Linked DNA regions of Homo sapiens: region 1 is linked to region 2. The links come from fine-mapping of genetic effects on gene expression. A gene starts in region 2. The other region holds a variant in brackets. All regions are shown on one strand. Distances are from middle to middle.

Region 1 (12,472 bases), 880 kb after region 2:
GCCCTTCTAGTCTACTGTCATCCTAATCCCAGGGTTTACCTTGATCATTTCCCTCTTCCTTTAAGTTAAGAAAAATTTTCCCCCATCTCCTTCATTTCGGTTTGGCTCTCTGTGTGTTCTAAGGGTCTAGTTGCCTTTCCAGCAAACTTTTTCTTTTTTTTTTTTTGAGACAGGGTCTCACTCTTTTGCCCAGGTGGGAGTACGGTGGGGCATTCATGGCTCGCTGCACCCTTGACTTCCCCAGGCTCAAGTGATCCTCCCAGCTCAGTCTCCTGAGTAGCTAGGACTACAGGCGTGTGCCACCATGCTCTGCTAATTTTTATATTTTTTGTAGAGATGGGGTTTTGCCATGTTGCCCAGGCTGTTCTGAAACTCCTGAGCTCAAGCAATCCACCCTCCCTGGCCTCCCAAGGTGCTGAGATTACAGGCATGAGCCACCGCAGCCAGCCCTGTAGCAAACATTTTTATGTATTAAGAGAATCCTTTTATAGACAAAGTCTTAATCTTTGTAATGTAACCCAACTGTGATTTCTTAGCAGTGAATCTTACATGTGGAAGAGATCACTAGAGTTCATTCTTCATATTTTCTTCTTTCTGAGAGCAGAGTTTGATTTCATTCTCCAGGCTCCCTTGCTGTCAGGTGAGGCTATGTGACCAAGGGCTGGCCAATGAAAGTGGTCATAAGTAGTTCACACCACTTCCAGGACTGTCCCATAAAGACACACCCCTCCCTTCCCCATAATTCTTAATTTCTCTCCCTTTCTCTATCTGCTGGATGCATGAACAGGATTATGAGGATCTAGAGACTGTGGAGCATAAGACAGCATGAGCATGTTCAGGTGAGGTGTCTCATGCCTGTAATTCTAGCATTTTGGGAGGCTGAAGTGGAGGGATCATTTGAGTCCAAGAATTTCAACCAGCCTGGGCAACTTAGTGAGACCTCATCTCTATGAAAATAAAAATATACAAAATTAGCCAGATATAGTGGTGCATGTCTGTAGTCCCAGCTACTCAAGAGGCTGAGGCAGGAGAATCACTTATTCTTAATTCTCTCTCCCTTTCTCCATCTGCTGGATCATGGACAGGATTCTGAGGATCTAGAGAATGTGGAGCCCAAGACGGGAGAAGCCTGCATTTCTGAATGACAGTGTGGCACTGTGCCCTCTTTCTGCAGACCAGCATTGGCCTGTGACATGAGCAAGAAGTAAACTTTTGTTGTGGCTAACTACTTAGACCGTGGACATTTTTGTTGCAGTGGTTGGCCTACTCTGATTGATAAATGTGTGCCAGCTGCTATGGCTTGAGCTTTATCATAGTGGGGAACACAGTATGGTGAAGTCAATAGATCTTAGCAGAGTATCAGCTGGATTGTCAGATAAATCTTCTCCTAGCACTATCCCTGTCTCTTTCACAACAGAGACTGGCAAATTCTCAGGTTCACTAATTAAACTATCATGCTTTTTATACCCTTTCTTTACCTTCTAATAGATTGAGTGGCACAGGTAAAGGAGTGGTGAGATCACTGTGTATAGAAACAACAGGAAATTTGGATCTGGCTAATCCTGCTATATAAGGGGGAGTCAGTTGCTTCCCATTTGAGAGCTTGGCATCTGCCTTTGCTCATTTTTTTCTCAAAATCAAAGGAGCTGTCCACAGCCTCAACAGTGATTCTTCTCCTTTTTTTTTTTTGAGTTGGAGTCTCGCTCTGTCGCCCAGGCTGGAGTGCAGTGGCACAATCTTGGCTCACTGCAACCTCCGCCTCCCAGGTTCAAGCAATTCTCCTGCCTTAGCCTCCTGAGTAGCTGGGATTACAGGCGCTTACCACCACACCCGGCTTAATTTTTGTATTTTTAGTAGAAATGGGGTTTCACCATGTTGGTCAAGCTGGCCTCGATCTCCTAACCTCGTGATCCACCCGCCTCAGCCTCCCAAAGTGCTGGGATTACAGGCGTGAGCCACTGCGCCCGGCAACAGTGATTCTTCTTTATGAACACTCTCACTAACAGCATTATTTCCTTCTCCTAGGAGGAAATTATGTCCTTGAAGTGAATTGGGGATCCTCTCTCCTCAACAGAAATCATGGGCTTGCATTGTTCAGGTGGTCATAAATGGAGTTATTCTTCCCAACTTTTCTTTTAAAGGTCCAGTACCAGTATTCACCCCAAGAGTGTATTACGCCATGGCTGCACTGAGTTCACTGTTACACAAATGTGGCACAATCTCACCTCATTTTCTTTCTTTGCGCATGCTGGTTTCTTTTTGTCTTTTCTTTTCTTTTTTTTTTTTGACAAGTGTCTTGATCTGTTGCTCAGGCTGGAGTGCAGTGAAGTGAACATGGCTCACTGCAGCCTCAACCTCTCCTGCCTCAGTCTCTCAAGTAGCTGGGACTACAGGTGTGCATCATCATGTCTGGTTAATTTTTATTTATTTATTAATTATTATTATTATTTTTGGACAGAGTCTTGCTCTGTTGCCCAGGCTGGAGTACAGTGGTGTGATCTCGGCTCACTGCAAGCTCTGCTTCCCGGGTTCATGCCATTCTCCCGCCTCAGCCTCCCCAGTAGCTGGGACTACAGGCACCCACCACCAAGCCTGGCTAATTTTGTTTTTGTATTTTTAGTAGAGATGGGCTTTCACCATGTTAGCCGGGATGGTCTCGATCTCCTGACCTTGTGATCCACCCGCCTTGGCCTCCCAAAGTGCTGGGATTACAGGCATAAGCCACCGCGCCCGGCCTATTATCATGATTTTTTGTAGAGATGAGGTTTCACTAAGTTGCCCAGGCTGGTCTTGAACTCTTGGGCTCAAGTGATCCCTCCACCTCAGCCTCCCAAAGTGCTAAGATTACAGGCATAAGACACCTCATGTGGACAAGTACATGTTGTTTTCCTTGCTTGGATTGTTCTTTTCTGATCTTTTTCCCCTTGAAAATGTCTACTGGCTGTTAAATGTCTTTGGAAACTCTCAAGTAATATTGTGGCTACAGTTCCCCTAGCACTTTGTTTATTTATTTTTTATTTTTTTTATTTTTTTGAGATGGAGTTTCGCTCTTGTTGCCCAGGCTGGAGTGTGATGGTGTGATCTCAGCTTACTGCAACCTCTGCCTCCCGGGTTCAAGTGATTCTCCTGCCTCAGCCTTCCGAGTAGCTGGGATTACAGGCATGCGCCACCATGCCTGGCCTATTTTTCTTTGTATTTTTAGTAGAGACTGAGTTTCTCCATGTTGGTCAGGCTGGTCTTGAACTCCCGACCTCAGGTCATCTGCCTGCCTTGGCCTCCCAAAGTGCTGGGATTACAGGTGTGAGCCACCACGCCTGGCCTGTTTATATTTTTTAATAAGTATTTTGGGTTATGCCTCCAGGAAGGTGACTACATTTAATCTTTTTGCAGCAATCTGAATCCCAGTACTTTCAGACATATAGTGTATGCTCTATAAAAATTTGTGGAATGAATAATTGAAAGTGAGTAGGGAAAGACTTGAGTGGATTTTGTCTTAGAGCAGTATCATCCACGTGGTCCCCAACATATATGATGGAATAACTTCTTTTAGGACTCGATGGTGGCCATAGGTATCTCTTTGTTTTGGGCATGAACAAGCTCCTTTCCCATTTTGAGAAAGTGAAATTTAATGTCTATCTTTAAATATGGGTACTATCTTACCCTTATTGAATTAAAATCCTTTCTGATTGTCCTAGCCGTCTCTTCAGTTTCCTCATGGCCAACTTCATTTCCTGATTCCTCAGCGTGTAAATTATAGGATTGAGCAAAGGGGAGATGACAGTGAAGGTGACAGAGATGGCAGTGTCTGTGGGGAGGGCAGTGAAGGGCCGGGCATAGACATAGATGCAGGGCACGAAATGCAGGGTCACCACGGTGATGTGGGAGGTGCAGGTGGAGATGGCTTTCCTCCTGCCTTCCCCAGTGTGAGACCTCAGCATCATCAAGATGACCGTGTAAGATATGAGGAGAAAGAAGAATACAAACCAACTGACTAACCCATTATTTGAAATCATCAGGAGCTCCAGAGTGAAGGTGTCAGTGCAGGCAAGTTTGAGGACCTGGGGGACATCGCAGTAGAAAGTGTCAAGAACATTGGGTCCACAGAAAGGGAGTGGGAGCAATAGAGAAATCTGCGCTATGGAGTGGACAAAGCCCCCCACCCAGGAAGCCACGATGAGGCCTGTGCATCGCCCCCTACTCATGATGGTCATATAGTGCAGGGGCTTGGAGATGGCTATATAGCGGTCAAACGCCATCACAGAGAGAGAAAAAACGTCTGCTCCCCCCAGAAGGTGGAAGAAGAACATTTGAGTGACACAGCCACTGAAGGAGATGGTTTTTGTCTCTGATAGAAGATCTATCAGGACCTTAGGAGCTGTGATGGAGGAAAAGCAGATGTCAAGAATAGACAGGTTGCGGAGCAGGAAGTACATGGGCGTATGAAGGTGAGATTCACAGGTAACTGTAACCATGATGAGGAAGTTTCCCATTAGAGTTGTCATGTACACCAAAAACAGGAAGGTAAATAAGACCTGGCTCAGTTCTCGGGACTGAGTAATTCCCAGGAAGGTAAATTCTTTCACTCTGGTGTAATTTCTCTGATCCATTGAATCACAGATCCTTTATCAGGTTCATCTCTGGAAGAAATAATAGTGCAGTTAAATAATATTGATAGGTCCTAAAATCTAGTGTTGTCTTTTCACTTAAGATTTGGCTCAGAATTAGGAGGAAGCTCTTTTCCCTATGCACTCACTGTGTCTGCAAGTCAGTATGCCACCACTGGATGAAAGATTACCCAGGTTTTTGATTCAGTCATCCCAGGAGACAAAGTTCTCTCACTGCTGCTGCTGAAACAGAGGTTGCAAGTCCGTGAATCTATTCAATTGTACTTTCACTATAAAATCTGACACTTAAAATAATAAATAATAAGAAGAAATCTGAATATATTAGGATTTCTGTTCATAAAAGCATCATTATGAGAATTCAAAGATAACCTGCAAATGGAGCAAGATATTTACAATACATTTATCTGAGAAATGACTCATGTTCAGAATATATAAAGAGCCTCTACAAATCAGTAAAAAAGCTGGATGACCCAACCTCAAAATGGCGAAAGATTGAAACCAATACTTCACAAAAGGCATATCCAAATGCCAATTCAACTTCATTAGTTATAGCAATAAGCCACAATATACATGCCAGATTGGCTAAATTGAAAAAGATAGAAACTGAAAAGATGAAAAAGTGGTGGTGAAGATGTGGAACAGTTGGAACTCTAATACACTGCTAGTGGGTGTGTAAAATTGGTATAACCACTTTGCTATTTGATTATCTCTGCTAAGACAGTATATAAATATAGTTTTATACATAGGAGGATATGTATATATCTACATGTATGATGATATATCTCTTTTAAAGGATCTATCTGTATATCATTACCTATATATCTCTTAAGGACATATTTCTACTTCTAGGAAATATGTACATATGTTCATCAAAAGACATGTCCTAGAATATTCATAGCAGCACTGTTATTTTTTATATTTTTTGAGACAGGGTCTCACTCTGTCGCCCAGGCTGGAGTGCAGTGGTGAGCTTATAGCTCACTGTAGCCTCAAACTCCTGAGCTCAAGCGATCCTCCCACTTCAGCCTCCCTAGTTGTTGGGACTTACAGGTGCCTGTCACCACACCTGAATAATTTTTTTCTTTTTATTTATTTTTTTATGCTGGAATAATTTTTAATTTTTTTATAGAGTTGGGGTCTCCCTATGTTACCCAGGCTGGTCTCAAACTCCTGGCCTCGGGTGATCTTCCTACTTTGGCCTCTTAAGTTTGATTACAAGCATGAGCCACCACACCTCACCAGTAGCACTGATTATAATTTCTTCAAACTGGAAAATGACTCAGAAATCCATCAACAGTAGAAAAGATAAATAAACT[G/A]TGTTACGTTCACACAATACTATACAGCAATGAGAATGATTTACACTATACGTAATAATATAAGAGAATCCCACAAACATAATGTTGTGCTGAATAATCCAGGGACCAAAGAGTATGCACTCTTCCATTTTATTCATATGTACAAAACTGAAGGGAGCCTAAGGGAGGCTTCTGGGTGCTGGTTTACACCAGTAGGCATATTCTGCTGGTGTAAAAACATTCATTGAGTTGGCCGGGCATGGTGACTCCCGCCTGTAATCCCAGCACTTTGGGAGGCTGAGGTGAGTGGAGGCCTGGCCAACATGTTAAAACCCCGTCTCTACTAAAAATACAAAAATTAGCTGGGCGTGGTGGCACACGCCTGTAGTCCCAGCTACTTGGGAGGCTGAGGCAGGAGAATCACTTGAACACAGGAGACGGAGGTTGTCATGAGCTGAGATCATGCCACTGCACTCCAGCCTGGTGACAGAGCGAGACTCCATCTCAAAAAAAAAAAATTCATTGAGCTGTACATGTATGTGCGTTTTTCTGTATGTTAGCATATCATACTTCAGTATAAAGTTTTAACTAACAAACATAACATTTATCATTTATAACACTTTAATCTCATGTTTAAAGAATGAATTACATTTAAAGCAAAATTTAATGGACCACTCACTTTTATAAGTTACTTTTATAGTTACGTGGTTATAGTCATCACCAGCTATCATCTGAGAGTAAACATTTTGTTGTGTTGTTGTTTTTTTGAGACAGGATCTCACTCCCATTGCCTAGGCTGGAGTGCAGTGGTGCAGTCGTGGCTCACTGCAACCTCCGCTTCCTGGGCTCAATTGATCCTCCCACCTCAGCCTCCCCAGTAGCTGGGACTACAGGTTGTACCATCATGCCTGGCTGTTTTTTTTTTTTTTGTATTTTTACAAAAAGACTGAGTTTCACCATGTTGCTCAGGCTGGTCTCAAACTCCTGGGCTCAAGTGAACCACCTGCCTGGACCTCCCAAAGTGCTGAGATTACAGGCATGGGCCACTGTGACCAACTCAAGAGTTACCGTTTTATTTTTTACTCACGTATGGATTTGAGATGTTCTTTTTTTTTTTTTTTTTGAGATGGAGTCTCGCTGTGTCGCCCAGGCTGGAGTGCAGTGGCACAATCTCGGCTCACTGCAAGCTCCGCCTCCCAAGTTCACGCCATTCTCCTGCCTCAGCCTCTCGAGTAGCTGGGACTACAGGCTCCAGCCTGGGTGACAAAGTGAGACTCTGTCTCAAAAAAAAAAAAAAAAGAAAAAAGAAAAAAAATCATCCCAAAGGGGACCCTTCTTTGGAAACAAGCTTATCAAGTATCTTGGACAGAGCCTGCAAACTGAGGATTCCCCCCCATACCCCAGCATCCCATTGAGCAAATTCTTCCTCATTCTCTACATTAAGTTGACTTTCTAGGATGCCACACATATCACGGTTTTCTATTTTCCAATTTTGAAAATCCCTTATTCTTGATTGAATCCCTAAAACTTTTACTAGAAGCATTATTCTTATTCAGTGGTACATGAAGGCACAGATAATCTTGTCATTAAAACATCTTACTCAAATCTTCCAAAATTTCATTCCCAGCCAAGAGGCAAAACTGCATCTACTAAACTCAGGAATTACTGCCTTTAAAAGCTGTTTTTCCAAGGCAGTCATCCTCCTGAGAGCTGGTGACGTCAGCACCTTCTCAACTACCTTTAATAAATTTTGAACCTCAATATCCCAACAAGTAAAACACAGCCAAGCCAACTGACCATCTTCCTATATTTTGCAAGCCACACTTTCCCTCTTTCTAATAGTGAAAAACTACCTCTTTTCTTTGCTTCTTAAGAGTCTTGACTTCCATAGGAACATTCTACACATTTGCAGCATTTCTCAAAATTCAGCACAAACAGCTTTTCAGTTTCAGAAGTTCATAGGCACTAATACTAACTGCTGGTTTAATCTTTAAGTGGGAAATTGATCCTCTTATGATGCCTCAGCTGCATTTTAGAAGAAGTAGGTACTGGGGAAATTCTCTGTTTAATGTAAAGCCTACCTCAAAGTGAGTGATTTTATTATCTTCTTTCCTCAGATGGGAAAAAGCAACCTCAGGTAATTACAGTATTCTGACTCTTTTCTACTTTACTACATTTTGGCCACCTGTATTAGTCTCCAGCCACAGCCCAATATAGGAATTAGCAAAGGGAATATTGTTAGGTATGAATGTGGAAGCTGAGTGGCCAATATAATACGCTACAATACAACTCAGGAGTTCCTTTGGGAGTCATTAAAATGTCACCAAGTACTCTCTGTCTTGTACTCTCTCTTTTGTTCTCTCTCCCTCTTTCTCATTTTTTCTCTGTTCTCTCTCATACATACATGCAGAGGCACCCGTGCACTCAGGACATACCCTTTCCTCTAGAGGAAACACATGAGACAGTGTATTTTCCTCTTTGGCTCAGGAAGAGAGTGTTTTGTTAAACCACACCAATGACTGTGCAGTCTTCCTCTTGACTAAAGTCACTTTGCCTGCAATCAGCTAGGAAATGAAACTTAAATAAATAAAAGAGTAACAGTGAAAAATTCAAAGCTCTGTGGCTACTGTCAGAGCAGCTCTCAGAGACTGTATGGATTTATACGTGCATTTTCTATTTTATTCATTTATTTATTTTTTGAGATGAAGTTTTGCTCTTGTTGCCCAGGCTGGAGTTCAATGGTGCGATCTTGGCTCACTGCAACCGCTGCCTCCCGGGTTCAAGCCATTCCCCTGCCTCAGCCTCCCAAGTGGCTGGGATTACAGGAGCCTGCCACCATGCCTGGCCAATTTTGTATTTTTAATAGAAGTGGGGCTTCACTATGTTGGTCAGGCTGTTCTCAAACTCCTGACCTCAGGTGATGCAACTGCCTTTGCCTCCCAAAGTGCTGGGATTACAAGCATGAGCCACGGCGCCTGGCCACATTTTCTGTTTAAAGCAACATGTACATTGTCCCAGGACATTTTTTTTTCTTTAAACAGTGTCTTGCTCTGTTGTCCGGGCTGGAGTGGTACTGTGGCATGATCCCAACTCACTGCAACCTCTGCCTCCCGGCTTCAAGTGATCCTCCTGTCTCACCCTCCCAAGTAGCTGGGATTACAGGCATGAGCCACTGTGCCTGGTTAATTTTTGTATTTTTAGTACAGATGAGATTTCACTATGTTGGCCAGGCTGGTCTTGAACTCCTGGCCTCAAGTGATCCGCCTGCTTCGGCTTCCCAAAGTGCTGAGATTATAGGCATGAGCCACTGCGCCCCGTCAGCCCCCACAGTTATTTTAACCTACATCTCTGAAATGTATAGCTCACTTTACATCTAGGTACAGCTCTTGATATTCATCAACTCAGTTACTGCATAATTATTTTATGTTATTTTTTCATGCGTACCCAGAGATATTCACTATGAAAACATTTAATTTGGGGAGCACATATATAAAAGAGCAGTTTGAAATCCACGTGTGTGCCCAGAGTCAGTTGACTTTTCTACAGTTCTTAGCAGCAGAGCTTAAAAAATAATGAAAGCATACAACAATCATTTCACAATGTATATGTATAATAAAACATCACATTGTACTGTTCACTGTAAATATATACAATTTTTATTTATTGATGACAGCTGCTTGGGAGGCTGAGGCAGGAGAATTACTGGAACCTGGGAGGCAGAGGTTGCAGTGAGCCAAGATCGCGCCACAGCACTCCAGCCTGGGTGACAGAGCAAGACTCCATCTCAAAAAAAAAAAAAAAAAAAGTAAAAACTAGGCTGGGCACGGTGGCTCACGCCTGTAATCCTAACATTTTGGGAGGCTGAGGTGGGCAGATCACCTGAGGTCAGGAGTTTGATGCCAGCCTGGCCAACATGGTGAAACCCCATCTCTACTAAAAATACAAAAATTAGCTGGTATGGTGGTGTGTGCCTGTAATCCCAGCTACCTAGGAGGCTGAGACAGGAGAATCGTTGGAAACCGGGAGGCGAAGCCTGCAGTGAGCTGAGATCATGCCACTGCACTCCAGCCTAGGTGACAAAACGAGACTCCATCTCAAAAAACAAACAACAAAACAAAACAAACAAAAACTAGTCAAAACTAATGTAAGTGGGAAAAATGCTGCTCAACTTGTGATTTTATGTCACTGCCAATAAGTGTTTGTGTGATCAGATGCAATTGCTTTTTCTGTCCTGAGTTATTGAATCAGGTTATGTTGCATGTTTAGACACGGTCATGAGGAAGTCAACAGGGACAATGATATGCCAAGAGTTCCTGGGTTCTTGATCTCTTGGGATTGTGTTTCTTAATCAGGCCCTATAGATCTGTGGAGTCATCTGATTCTGATATAGAGATAAAAACTTGATCTGAGTGAGTCACAAGAGTTAGGAAAGAAAGAAAAGGGCAAAGGACGGATTTGCGTGAAATGGGCTATTAAGTGGCTTGTAGTGTGTATTTTTCATAAGCAATTTCATAAAGAAAAGCCTAGGGACTCTTGAGACCAAAGCTACTTGGGCAAAGGTAGCAGGACCCTATGAATAGTGATCTGGCAAGTGTGACTTTTTATTAGAATCTGTTTGCTTGCAGAAGTAAGTTAATATTGTAAGAAGTTAGGTTTTGTTGATCAGGTGACAGGAAGTGGCAAACATTTGAGCCAGTTAGTTCATGAATGCTTACAGGGCCAGGCCAGATCCAATGAGGGACTTAAGTAAAGTTTGTCTTCAACATTCACTATCCTTCAACATTCATTATCCTTTGGCTAATTTACTCTCCTTGGGCTCTCTGTTCCATCCCATGGGGCCTGTCCTCTTGGCTACTCTATAAGCCAGGGTTTATTTTTGACCCATTATCTTCTTTTGATATTAAATTCTCCTGTGCTGTTTCTCTCATCAGCTTCAGGGTGACTTTTTTTTTTTTTTTTTCGTGAGACAGAGTCTCGCTCTGTCGCCTAGGCTGGAGTGCAATGGCACAATCTTGCCTCACTGCAACCTCTGCCTCCCAGGTTCAAATGATTCTCCTGCCTCAGCCTCCTGAGTAGCTGGGATTACAGGTGCCCACCACGATGCCCGGCTACTTTTTGTGTCTGTGTTTTTAGTAGAGATGGGGTTTCACTATGTTGGGCAGGCTGGTCTTGAACTCCTGACCTCAGGTGATCTGCCCTCCTCGGCCTCCCAAAGTGCTGGGATTACTGACATGAGCCACTGTGCCTGCCCAGGGCGACTCTTTAAGCCTTATGAATAACAAGCAAACCTATTGTCATGTTTTGATAATAGAAAGCATTCCCTATTTAATAAAAGGTGCTGGGAAAACTGGCTAGCCATATGTAGAAAGCTGAAACTGGATCCCTTCCTTACACCTTATACAAAAATCAATTCAAGATGGATTAAAGACTTAAACGTTAGACCTAAAACCATAAAAACCCTAGAAGAAAACCTAGGCATTACCATTCAGGACATAGGCATGGGCAAGGACTTCATGTCTAGAACACCAAAAGCAATGGCAACAAAAGCCAAAATTGACAAATGGGATCTAATTAAACTAAAGAGCTTCTGCACAGCAAAAGAAACTACCATCAGAGTGAACAGGCAACCTACAAAATGGGAGAAAATTTTCGCAACCTACTCATCTGACAAAGGGCTAATATCCAGAATCTGCAGTGAACTCAAACAAATTTACAAGAAAAAAACAAACAACCCCATCAAAAAGTGGGCAAAGGAAATGAACAGACACTTCTCAAAAGAAGACATTTATGCAGCCAAAAAACACATGAAAAAATGCTCATCATCACTGGCCATCAGAGAAATGCAAATCAAAACCACAATGAGATACCATCTCACACCAGTTAGAATGGCGATCATTAAAAAGTCAGGAAACAACAGGTGCTGGAGAGGAAGTGGAGAAATAGGAACACTTTTACACTGTTGGTGGGACTGTAAACTAGTTCAACCATTGTGGAAGTCAGTGTGGCGATTCCTCAGGGATCTAGAACTAGAAATACCATTTGACCCAGCCATCCCATTACTGGGTATAAACCCAAAGGACTATAAATCATGCTGTTATAAAGACACATGCACACGTATGTTTATTGCGGCATTATTCACAATAGCAAAGACTTGGAACCAACCCAAATGTCCAACAATGATAGACTGGATTAAGAAAATGTGGCACATATACACCATGGAATACTATGCAGCCATAAAAAATGATGAGTTCATGTCCTTTGTAGGGACATGAATGAAATTGGAAATCATCATTCTCAGTAAACTATCGCAAGAACAAAAAACGAAACACCGCATATTCTCACTCATAGGTGGGAATTGAACAATGAGATCACATGGACACAGGAAGGGGAATATCACACTCTGGGGACTGTTGTGGGGTGGGGGGGGCAGGGATAGCGTCGGGAGATATACCTAATGCTAGATGACGAGTTAGTGGGTGCAGCGCACCAGCATGGCACATGTATACATACGTAACTAACCTGCACAATGTGTACATGTACCCTAAAACTTAA
Region 2 (12,472 bases):
CTCTAGATAATCAATCCCTCATGTGTATTGGGCTTTACAAAGAACATGCCCAGCCTAGTCTCTTCTGATTCTCATTATACTTTTGTGCTGTAGGAAGGACACTTGTTGTTATCCACATTTTACAGATAAATGGAATTAAGGAAGTAAGTGACTGTGAGCAATCACTTTCACGGTTTGTGGAAGGGCTGTGATGAAAAGCCAGGTCTTCTGATGCCTGGTTCAGCATCCTGCCTCCATCATTCCTGCACACCTCCATCTGCATAGCTCTCAGTGAGTCAGGAGTAGGTTTTCCTTACCCATAGTTTATTTCTCAGCTCTGGAAGGAAGTCAATACAGGGAGAACAGCATTTGGGGCTTCATCTGCATTGTCTGCATGTATTTCCATAAGCAGGGATGGAAACATTTATCTGCCCTCCCCTCAGAATGTCTCTATGCCTTGTAACTATCCCTAGAGGAAACTGGCAGAGGACCATAAGAACAGAGTTCAACTGACTTTCAGAGAGGCCCACATCCCCAGGACCTTAAACAAGATCAGAGTGGTTAGAAAGGAGTATGAACATTTAAGCATCATCTTGCCTTTTATCAGTAATGTCTCATTAAACTCTCAAAATAACCCTTAGAAGTAGGCACTTTTCCCTTCAGGTTAACACAGAAGTGAGTGATAGCCTTGGTTCAATCCTAGAACAATCCAGCATTGATGCCCAAACTCTTTCTTCCAGACCTTGGGCAGGATCTAAAGAAAAGCCTCGGTTGGTATTGGAGATAGGGCTAGGATTGGGAGGAAGAATTAGTGAGAGCTTAGGATTGGTTTTGGTTAGAGCAAGGTTTCTCAACCTTGGTACTATAAACATTTTTTGTTGGATAATTTTTGTGTTGGGGGGAGGCTGCCTTGTGCATTTTAGATGCTTAGAAATGTCCCTGGCCTCTACTCACTTGTTGCCAATAACACCAGTTGTAATGACCAAAAATGTCTTCAGATGTTGTCCAATATTTCTGGGTCCTGGGGGGTGCAGGGCAGGGAATTACCCCTAATTACAAACAATGAATTACAGGGATGCAGAATGGTTTCCAATAAACAACTCTTTTAGTTTACTTGACCAGGGAAATGGGAACAAGTGTAAGAATGTCTGTCAGGCAAACAGTGGCACTGGCAAATAGGAATGATCTGAACTGCAACTTTGATGCATACAGATTTTCCTGAAAGGTAACTTTATTACTAAAGGCTTCATACATAAAGATGATATAAAACAAATAGAAGATTTTAAATTTTATGTAGTTTAAGTGGCTTACCAGAAGTTTTGATTTCTTATCGGTTACTGTGAGGTATCCTGTAAGAATAAACTGTTAAGAAGACAAGAGACAAAAGTTAACAGGTGATGTGTTTGACCACCTTGCAGTATAATTTCCCTTGGATTTGCAAAATATCTGTTTGTGAATCTCCAAGACCATCCCGTTTTTCCACCTGAGCATCAGGGAGTAGGGAAGGTAGGCGTAGGTAGGGTAGGAAGAAACTTTGTGCTGGATTTGCTCAGCACTGAACAAGCGCTCTCTGCCAGGGCCAACTGGGACAGGCAGGCTCCTCTAAGATCCAGAGGACCAGATGTTTGATCCGGCTGGGGCTCCAAAAAGAGATTCCTGAGCTCTGGGCCTTGAAGAGAAGAGGAGGAGCTGTGCCTGTTCTGAGCAGGTGAAGGGAGACTTTCTCAAGGAAGACCCCTCTAAAGGCTGATATGGGGACTGATATCTAGTGTAGTTATCAGAGTCCCTCATTTCCCATGATCGTAGAGCCTAGTACCACCTCAGGAAAATGAGAACTCTGTCACTCCATGTGGAGTCCCTTACTTTTTTAATGTTCTGGGGATGGGAACCTTCTCTGTGGGAACTGGCCTTGGACCTTGGGGACATCTGGGTCTTAGAGTCCAAGGATCTGCAGCTGACTTGCAGAGATCAGAAAGTTACCTTTGATACCTCCCTCCGCTTCACTCCCCACATTGGATTGCCAAGTCCTGTCACTTCTACCTCCGAGTCACTCTCAAGGCTCTCCATCTCTAGCTCCATTGCCACCAAGCTAGTTCGGGAAACTCTTTCCTCATCTGTGTGTTTGTAGCCTCCTCTCATTGGATTCTCCTAGGTTTACTGTTATAATTGAATTAATTTCTCACTCTAAAAACACAATGATACTTCAACAAGTCTTCAAGTGTCACTATCCTCTTTAAAAACGTTCAGTGGCTTTCCCATGCTTTCACATTGAAGTTCCATTTTCTTAACATGACTATAGGGGTTGGCACGACCTGGTTACACCCTACCTTTATAGCCTCATTTTATGCCATCACGATAGATTCATTGGTCTTCTTTTGGTTACTCTTTCCCACATCAAGCCCTTGGCTCATGCTTTATCTTTGCCAGGGATGCTTTCCTTCCACTTCGCCTAGTGAGCAGCTACGCAGAAAGCACTTGCCTGACCTCCATGGTCAGGTGAGTCCTCTATTAAACCCTCACATCGCACCTGGAACTCTCCTCTTAGAGCACTTAGCACAAGTGTAGGAACAAATATTTGGGGTTACTTTTGACTTTTTCATGTCTAGTCTCCCAGTTAGATGACAAACTGTCTAAATCTAAGAACAATTCACCACTTCTCTCAGAGAGGAGCTGTTTTCCAGTATTCTCAGTCTCAGCACCTAGGATGCCATTGAAGACGCGGTATGTGCTCAGTAAATATCTTTTAAGTGAAAAGTAGAGTTTTCAAAAGCAGCATGCCAGAATCTCATTTTAATTCACACATGCAGAGTACACAAAGTCACACTGGGACAATTCTGTTGTGAAATGAGAAAGTGAGGGGTTGGTCTGTTTGATTTTCTACAGTATGGCATGTATAGTTTGAAAATCATATTGAATATTACATTATTTATATTGGGAAAATGAAAACACTGCTGGTTGTTTCTGAAATGCACATTATAGAAAAGGCATGGAGTATTTCTGTTTATCAAAAGAGACTGTGGATTTTTAATAGTCAGAGATAGTGGCCTAATTTATTAATTATTTCACCTATTTGTTGATTGATTGATTGATTGATTCATTCGTTCGTTCATGCACACTATGCCTCAAGCATGATTCTAGGTTCTCAGAATATAACAACTAAAACAGACAGTAACACTGCTGTCTTCTCAGGAGTGTATGTTATAGTAGGAGAAGCTCTAATGAGTCTGTCCTTAAATATTATGGCACAAAATTAGGAATCCAGGCTGTGGGGATTGGATAGAAATAGCACTGTATTAAGAATAATATTTATGGCTATATGATTATCTAGATGAGTGCCACTCATAAAGTTGTCTCTGGGGCTAAGAAGGAGGATGAGTGATAATAATTTTAAAATTCTTTTTAAGCTTTCAGAGTCTGTGATTCCATGAGTGCTAGCTAGGCTAGATATGTTTAAGTTATTCTCTACTTTTGAGCTCAGTTTCCTTATTTGCAAAGGAATAAGTAGGATATTTGTGCATCTAGTCTCCCAGGTTGGTATTGAGGAGCAAATGTCTTACTATACACACAAGGGCTTTGGAAACAAATTTTAAGCACCTGAGAGTAGTTATTACAATGATGATGGTAGTGCAGTGACCAAATGGAGTTGCTTCTTTTGCCGTGAAGGGAGCTGCCTTTTTTGGTCTCCTGGAGGGCCATATTTATGGAATTCATTACCCTAGGACGTGAAGCAGTTCAAATCTATCTTTATAGCAATTTCTCCAAAGCTTCTAATCGACAGTACTCACAATAAGTGCTCCCCAGAATGGATATCCTGTGAGGACAACAAGGGGAAGTCTTTGGGAGAAACCGATGTAATTAAGTGCAAATATAGTTCCAAAGCCCACAATGATTAGAGCAAGCAGGATCTGGGTAGCCTGTGAGGAGAGAAATGGGTACATGAGGTTACAAGTATCCAAGACCCTGTGGGCTACCCCACGTCCCTCAGGGTGTGCCTCCATGGCACACCTTTCCCTCCATCCAAATGCCTTCCTCTCTCATTTGTCAATCATTCTCAGATTGTTAAGAGACTCAGTTCAATGTGTTTCCTTCCCACTTTGCTTGCCTGGATCCTTCAGGTTCAAATCCTTCACTTTTATTCTTTATTATTTTCTATCTTCCCTGGTGTTACCAATTAATCTTATATCAGACAGATTTGAGTACATGTCTGACTACCCCCAGATTATAAGCTTCTTGAGCACAGGGACTATAAACTATTCACCTTTACATTTGTTTTTTCGTCTGTCTCACCAGTATCCTATTATTATCCTAACAGCCCCCACCCCCACATTTTCCAGCACTCAGTATAGGCTTTTGGAATTGGGGCTCATCCCAGTTGTCTAAAAATTTAAAAAGTTTGATGACATAGAGTGGAGAACCTGGGATGAGCTTGCATTTCACCTCCCCTTCATCCATGGACCCAACTAGGGATGAGAATAGCCCAGTGGGCCTATCAGCTTGTAGGAATCTGCAGGGAAAAGAATAGCAGCAGTGGTTCTCAGGGCGCAACTTCTCTGGCAGTCTAGATTTTGTCCCCAGGCCACATCTCTGGGCTGTGGCACACCAAGTAATGATTTTTGCTGTTGTACAAAGGATGGAGGCTGTGCATACAGCTCTCCCCTGGGTGCATTTGTGATGAAAAACGTTTTGCATGCCTTATCATTTGGTTCACTGTGGAGCTTTGAATATGGGTTTTGAAGCACTCCCAATTCCTTTAAGAGCATGAAGGGGAAGTCAAACCTCTCCACTTATGGTTTCTTAGCTTCAAGGGAGGTGCCACCACACCCTGAAGTCACTTCCTCAATGAGATATTTTAAAAAGTTATACTAGTTTCTTGCTTCCCCCTCTGCTGGGATTCAAAGATCAGTACTAATTTCTCATGTAAGGTGAAGGGGGAAAAGTAGAATTAACTCCCTCCCTGAAAATAATCTCTGCATATCTCTGCAGACATACATGAATAAATAAACTTCTTTTCTCCCCTTCTGGAAGACCTATTGACTGGAGAGGACTTACCCCCAAGACTCTTGGCTCTCCCTTCAGAAAATCCAGCAGAGAGCTATGAGGTCTGTAGGGAAATGCAGTCAATACAGTTTCGTTTGGTTTTATAGTGATGACGTGAGTTGCCCTTCTGTCCTGGGATGTTGACTCCATGATTCTATGGCAGAACTCTAGTAAGGGAAAGAGTGAGCAAACATTGCCGCCCAAATCATGATCTACCTCTCCACCAGAGTCACATGGAGCCCTCAGAGATGAGCCCTTAGTGATGACTCTACTCAGTAGTAGAATCTCAGAATCATAGTTGAGTCACAGAGTTTTAGAATTCTAGAGCATGCTCAGCCCCCCATCTTCCTGGTGAAAAGTACTGTATCCAGAAGACTTACTCTCTTGTCAATTTGCTTACAAACATATGGTAAACAAAGAATAGATGGTATATACGAAACAAGTCCTTACACATATGTTCATGAGTTATAAAGGAACTAAAACTTATGGAATATTCCTTATGTTCTGGGAACTGTGTAGAAGGTGTTGACATGCACTAACATTTATTCTTTTAACAGTTCTACAATACTGAAACTGAGGAACAGCAAGGTTATGTCACCCAAAGACATACAGGACAGGGAAGGGGCAAACTCAACTTGACCTGTCTCCAAAATCTATGTTTTTTAAACTCAGCCACGCTTCTGCCCTCCTTTGAAAGGAGTTTCTTTTACTTGATGAATTTTCTAACTTACTGTTTAACCATATTTCTCTGTATTATAAAAATCAGTAGATAACTTTGAATTTCGATTTTTTTCCATCTTTATTGAGGTATATTTGACAAATAAAAATTATATATATTTAGGGTGTACTACATGTTTTGATATACATATACATTCCAAAATGATTACCACAATCCAGCTAATTAACATATCCATCACCTCACGTAGTTATCTTTTTTCTTTTTTTGTAGTGAGAACATTTAAGAACATTTAACAATTCTTTGCATTTTCAAATTAAACAAAAAAAAATCAGTAGTAAAGATGCTATAGGACCAGATGGAGTTGCCCCTTTATAACAGAGAATATTTTAGCTTTCATAAAGTTAAGCAAAATCTAATGATAGTCAAATCCTTCCTGGTTTGAACTACACAAATACTAATTAAAACAACAGAAACTGCCTTTAGAAATTTTGCTTCCCATATTGATCCTTTATATTCCTAAATTTATTACAATTTTAACTATGAGATCATGAAGGTAAATTGTTTCATAAAACTAAAACCAATGTATACACATAATAACTTGAGTATTTCCTGGTTTGTAGCGACCATCGATAGCAGGGTATCTCAAAATGAGCACTGATGACATTTGGACTCAATAATTCTTTGTTGTAGAAAGTTATAAGATATATATATTTTAAACTATGCTACTCCTCATTTATTTAGGAAACCTCATATGCATAGAGAGTGCAAAGTTAAACTGCAGCCACACTGGAATTTCCATAATTGCCCAAGAAATCGAGTTTAATGCAGAGGCTCACACAGAACATATTACACAAAGAACAGACAAGATAATTGCAGCAATGACTGGGAAGAAAGAATACGCCCATGTGGTACAAAGTGCAGGGGTGATGATCTGAATTACAAAACTGTGCTATAGATCAAAATAGAGCTAATACCCAAACAAAGAAATAGACATTATTCTTTTCAGCATGAGCAGCATTTAGCTCCAAGCTAGAAGCAGAAAACATGCCAGTCAGAGATTATCTGTAACTTGTTAAGACTAAGATGTCTTCATTGACTCCTACCCTGAAATGACAGAAGAGAACATAGTTTATGTGCCAACGACTGAATATTCTTTTTTATTTTATTTTATTCATTTATTTAAAATAAATGAATTCAAAGACTATATATAGTCTATTTTTATTTTTATTTATTTTTTTATTTATTTTGAGATGGAGTTTTGTTCTTGTAGGCCGGGCTGGAATGCAGTGGTGCAGTCTCCGCTCACTGCAACCTCCCCTTCCCGGGTTCAAGTGATTCTTCTGCCTCAGCCTCCCAAGTAGCTGGAACTACAGGTGCGCACCACCATGCCTGGCTAATTTTTTGTATTTTTAGTAGAGACAGGGTTTCACCTTGTTGGCCAGGCTGGTCTCAAACTCCTGACCTCGGGTGATCCGTCCACCTCGGCCTACCAAAGTGCTGGGATTACAGGAGTGAGCCACCGCGCCCAGCCAAGAAGGCCATTTTTAAACAATAGAATGAGCACCACTGGTTGGTGCCACAGGATTGCAGAGATTTGGATTTACATGGTAAGATTCATGGGAGGCAGGGACATGCTTGCTGTGTGTTGAGAGGTAATCCTAAGCACTTGAGAAGATCTCTTTGCTGTCTTCCACCTAATGGCTCATGAAAAAGGGCCCAGTAGATCTGTTTCTCAGAGAGTGTCCAGGGCAGAGTAGTTTAATTATATATAGTCTTTAATTTTTAATTAAAGTTTTCTTACAATCCCTAATATGTAATATTTAAGCAATATGAGTGTGAAAATAATACAGAAACAGCCTGCAGAGTCACGCAACTTACCAAATTCACACTAGCATGAGTGCACATTTTCCCTTCTGTGTATCACCTTCTGCTCAGTTTACCCAAAGCAGTTTATAAAGTTTATGACCATTTTGGAAGACTGGCTGATAACATTTATTGACTTGGGCTTTGAGGAAATTATTTTCAAGAGAAATTAAATAACGACTCATAGTAAACAAATACAAAACAAAAGCTTTTTTTTTTTTAGTTTGTTTCACAGTATCTAAAATGGCAGAGATTTCAGGAAAGTCTAATCACACTTGACCATGAGTGTTGAGTTGCTTTTCCTTCCTCTGAGGCCAAGAGTTACTTATATCCAAGACCGTGAAGAACTCTTTTTGACCTGTTGGATATGATCTTGTGACTGGGTCGAGGAAAATGAACTCTAGAAAATACATAATTGGTTAGAATTTTTAAACTTTGATTTCGGAGATTAAAAAAGATAACTCATAATACCTTTTCCCCAAGTTTTGTGTAGTACTAGTTCTTCCAACTTTGCCATAATATGTAATTGCAGCAATATTAATTAAAAATAATGCAATTCTCCAGTCTGCTAATTATTTTACTATTTTAAATAGGATCATAGTTAAATCATAATTCATCCAAATTCTATAAACATTTCTTTTGTTGTTGTAGCCTTTAGGGGAAATGAAAATATTTTAAAATTATAACATCAAGAGCTAAGGGGATGTAAGGAAGAGCACAGGGAAGCATAAACAGGACAGAGACATTCTAGTAAAGTCTCATCACATTAACAAGGAAACTTGGCTAGGGAGACTCTCTCGGGAGGCAGGTAGCTGTGTTCCCGATAAAAGTGAGGGGATACGCGTTCTCATTCTCAGCCCAATAGTCTGTGTCATTCATTTTCTATGTAATTTTATCCAAGCCGTGGTTCTTTCATGAGGGGTTGGGCTATGTGATTTCTAAAACCAACTAGCTTCATATTAAGCAATTCTCTAACTGGTCTGCTTCCCAGTAGACACCAGCTGATCCCAGATGACCAGAGTGTCCTCCAGAAGGAGCCCATTTATACAAACTCTTTTTTTTTTTTGAGACTGAGTCTCACTCTGTCACCCAGGCTGCAGTGCAGTGGTGTGATCTCAGCTCACTGCAACCTCCACTTCCTGGGTTCAAGCAATTCTCCTGCCTCAGCCTCCCAACTAGCTGGGACTACAGGCGTGTGCCACTGCACCTGGCTAGTTTTTCATATTTTTAGTAGAGATGGGGTTTCACTGTTAAACTCATTTTTTTAATTATAAAAGTGGCCTTCCACATGCACCTCATGAACAATAATTGATTCTTCTTTTTGCCACTTTTTGAGGTTGGATTATTGTAGCCTGGACCTGAGACACAGCAGGTATCAGGCGACATGTCAGCATACTCACCCCAGGGTTGTTGGAGTAGAGCTGTTTCCACCAAAAGACAGAACTGTATGCAGCTAATAAGAGCTCCAGCACAGTGAAGATGAGCATCACCACTAGGACACCCTGCAAATCAGGACATGAATGGCTGGTACCCAAGACAAGCTAGCCCTTGTGCCTGGCTAAGAGGAGACAGGGCGATGAGGCTCCAGCAATGCAGAGAAAAGGAGACAGGGAAAATTGCTTAATCCTCTTTTCTGCTTTCTTTTTCAGATTTCTTAATAGATGAAGGGAAATAAGCAGCAACGGCATCATCTCAGAACTTTGGTATCCCACCTAATGATAGATGAGAGTAATCTGCCACTTATCTCTGGTTGCTTTTATTATTTTCTTTTTGACTATGGTGTTTTTATTGTCATGATGATATTTCTAGGTGTGTATTTGATTCTGTGTATCCTGCAGTGGTCTCAATGCATTCCTTCAATCTGAAATCTCATGTTTTTATTAAATTCTAAAAAATTTCTAGTTATTTACTTTTGCATATACTCTCTCTTTTATAATCTCTCACTGGGACTCCTACTAGATATGTACTGAACCTCTCCACTTCCCTGCATCCATCATACCTTTTAGGCTTTCATCCATCTTTTCCAAACACACATAATGTGTTGTGTTCTGTGTGATTTAATCAAATCTAAATTCCATTTCACTCTTTGTTTCCTTGAATATATTGAATCTGCTGTTTAACTGATCTGCTCAGTTTTTAATTTCAAAGACAATTTTCATTTCCAAGTATGTGATTTCATTTTTTTCTCAAATGCACATATCTTTTTTTTCCTTTACTGTCCTTTTTTTTTTTTTCCATTTTGGTTTCTATTACTTTTTTTTTTTTTTTTAGACAGGGTCTCATTCTGTCACCCAGTCTGGAGTGCAATGGTGTGATCTCAGCTCACTGCAACCTCTGCCTCCCGAGTTCAAGTGATTCCCCTGCCTCAGCCTCCCAAGTAGCTAGGATTACAGGCATGTACCACCCTCCCTGACTAATTTTTGTATTTTTAGTAGAGACAGCATTTCACCATGTTGGCCAGGCTGGTCTCAAACTCCTGGCCTCGGGTGATCCACCCGCCTCAGCCTCCCAATGTGCTGGAATTACAGTTGTGAGCCACTGCACCTGGCCTGGTTTCTATTACTTTTTAAACATCTTTAATGATTTAAAATGTATTTTCATAATAGCCTTGTTCAAATTATTATGTTATCTCCAATTCTTGAGCTTCTGACTTTCATGTTTCCCCATTTGCTGCCGCTACTCATTTTTTTGTGCTGTTGTTATGTTTCTCATAATATTTTGGTTATTAGATAACTTCAGTTTGTAGATGGTGGTAGTGGTAGGGTTCTTTGATAGGGAGGCATCTTATAAGTTGGGTTTACGGACATCTCCTTAGATAGTAGTTTTAGATTTGATTCTGCTAGAACCTTAGAAGTTTCACATATCTCGTAACAGTTTTTAACTTAATGCTTTTATTTGAGGTCCCCCTATTTTATATGTAATTATGAATTCAGATGGCACACTTGCACAAAGCTTAGTGAGCTGACGGAAGGTTTTCTTGAAACTTCTTGGGATGTTGGGCAGAATTTTCCTTATATTATTTTCACAAATTGAGTAAATATTCAGTATCAGCTTTCAACATTTTTGCAGGGTACTCCATATGAGCTTTATGGCCCTGTCCAATGCCAAATCTTGTCATGGATGTTAAAACTGTGTGATCCTAGCCTCTAATACCAATATTCCTATTCAGACTTCCTTGGTATTTTGGCCTCAGCTCTTGTTTGATGATTTGGCTTTAGGATCCTTCTTAGCTTCTGGAACCTAAGTCATCTTTCTTCTTAGATTTGTTTTTCCTTCTGCCCTCCCTTCCTTTCTTCTTCCAACTTTGGCTATATATTTTTTAATTTTTAAAATTTCATTACTTTTGTTCAGGTAATTGCTGTGTTAATTAACAAAGAGTAGGCCTTTGGAGTCTGCTTAGTCTGCTATGTTGCAACTTCTCTCATATTGTAGGAAGTTCTTTTGGACTCCAGTTGTCTCAGAATGGGAAGCAGTTTGGGGTAATGAAATTCATTTTCTTTAAATTAAACCCCCAATATGCCTCTCCCACCCCCATTGCTTTACCACATGTCTGTCCTACACCAGGATGACACTATCTACTGGGTTTCCTCCAGACAGGTCTCTGTGCTCTTCCACTTCCTCAAGCTCCTGAACCAAAGGGGTTGCTTTTGACAATCTCTGGGTCACATGAGCAGACCCACAGGAGTGCAAAAGCTTGCACACATTTTCTGAGATTTGTGAGATAGATGGATCCAAGGGAATGAGAGATACTACCTTGGGTTCCCTGTGCTCCTACTAGGAGGATTCATAGAGGAAGAAGTCTTTCTTCTTAAAAGGCCACTGGTTTATGGTTTTAACACCATGATACTATATTTATAGGATTGAATAAGCAAGGCTTGTCACCACGAACAGGTAGTGATCATCAAGTTTGGGAGAAAGGTGCCAAGAAAATGCTGCCCAGAGAGGTTGACATTTTTTCTAGAAGTCAAATCCGTTGTCTCCCTTCCCACCACTCTCTGTCAGCCCTGTTAGACCAAAGTACAAAATAACTATGTATTTGGACTTAAGGTTCAAGTTTTGTGCCTAACATAATGTAGCATACAGGCTTGCATTTGAAGATTAACTTAAACACCGTACAGCCTCTGCTAGTCCTCAATTCACTGATGATCAGAAGACAAGCATCTTTAAGGGGTAGGGGCATCCAACCCCTGGAAAAGAACCCAAAAGAATCCCAAATTAAAATATAATTCAAATGAAGAATATTTCTGCCTGTGATGAGTAGGAAGAATATTTCTGCCTGTGATGAGTACAACAAAGGTTGTACTTTAAGAGTTAAACCCATTAAGGTTGGAACGTTTGTGATTAAGAAAGACCAGTGGAGGGATAGACTCCCTACTGTCCTTCATGATTTCCTCTTTTGACTTTCTATAGTACATCCCCCACACCATGCAGTCAGCAGACAGGCCTCTTCCAACCACAAGTTTTTGTTTATTTCTGTCTGTCTCCAGGCATTCGGACCGACCAACCAGAGACTGCCAGAAAAGCAGAGAGTATGCAAAGGGGAGACACAGAGATTTCACATGACAGGATATTCAGTCTGAAACTACTCACTGTTAAACTGACACTGGTCAGGAGACAATCTTTGATTTCATATATTGGATAATAGTACTCCGAATAAGGCAATGAGGATAGATAATCCATTTCTGAGCCACAATGTTGAGAGGCAGTCCTCAGGGCTACCATGCTGTCAGCAAGGAGGAAGAGGCCTGCTCCTGCAGTAACAGAACTCACTGCATTTGAGGTCAAGCTGCTCAGGTCCTGGAAGAGAAACTCTGCATTGGGTTCTCATCACAGAATCAGCACGTGACACTATTAGTCCTCTGTCCATTGTACTGCAATGGTGCTTCCTTGGGTCTGTTTCCTTCCTGTTTCCTT

Evidence for each region. PIP is the estimated chance that this variant, and not a neighbour inherited with it, causes the effect.
Region 1: its variant is fine-mapped to the expression of MS4A14 in atrial appendage (GTEx, PIP 0.94).

Annotation. Positions count from the first base shown.
Region 1 is chr11:59,507,048-59,519,519 of GRCh38, reverse strand. It overlaps OR4D9 (olfactory receptor family 4 subfamily D member 9), which reads right to left and starts at 7,981. Exons shown (of 3, transcript NM_001004711.2): 1 at 7,774-7,981; 2 at 4,754-4,847; 3 at 1-4,637. The coding sequence starts at 4,607. The coding sequence ends at 3,663. The variant G/A (reference allele first, on the strand shown) is at 5,942.
Region 2 is chr11:60,389,273-60,401,744 of GRCh38, reverse strand. MS4A14 (membrane spanning 4-domains A14) reads right to left here and starts at 5,286. Exons shown (of 5, transcript NM_032597.5): 1 at 5,029-5,286; 2 at 3,765-3,893; 3 at 1,291-1,341. The coding sequence starts at 5,166. MS4A7 (membrane spanning 4-domains A7) reads right to left here. Exons shown (of 7, transcript NM_021201.5): 5 at 12,149-12,355; 6 at 8,959-9,060; 7 at 5,797-7,958. The coding sequence ends at 7,884. RefSeq lists an enhancer at 12,179-12,248.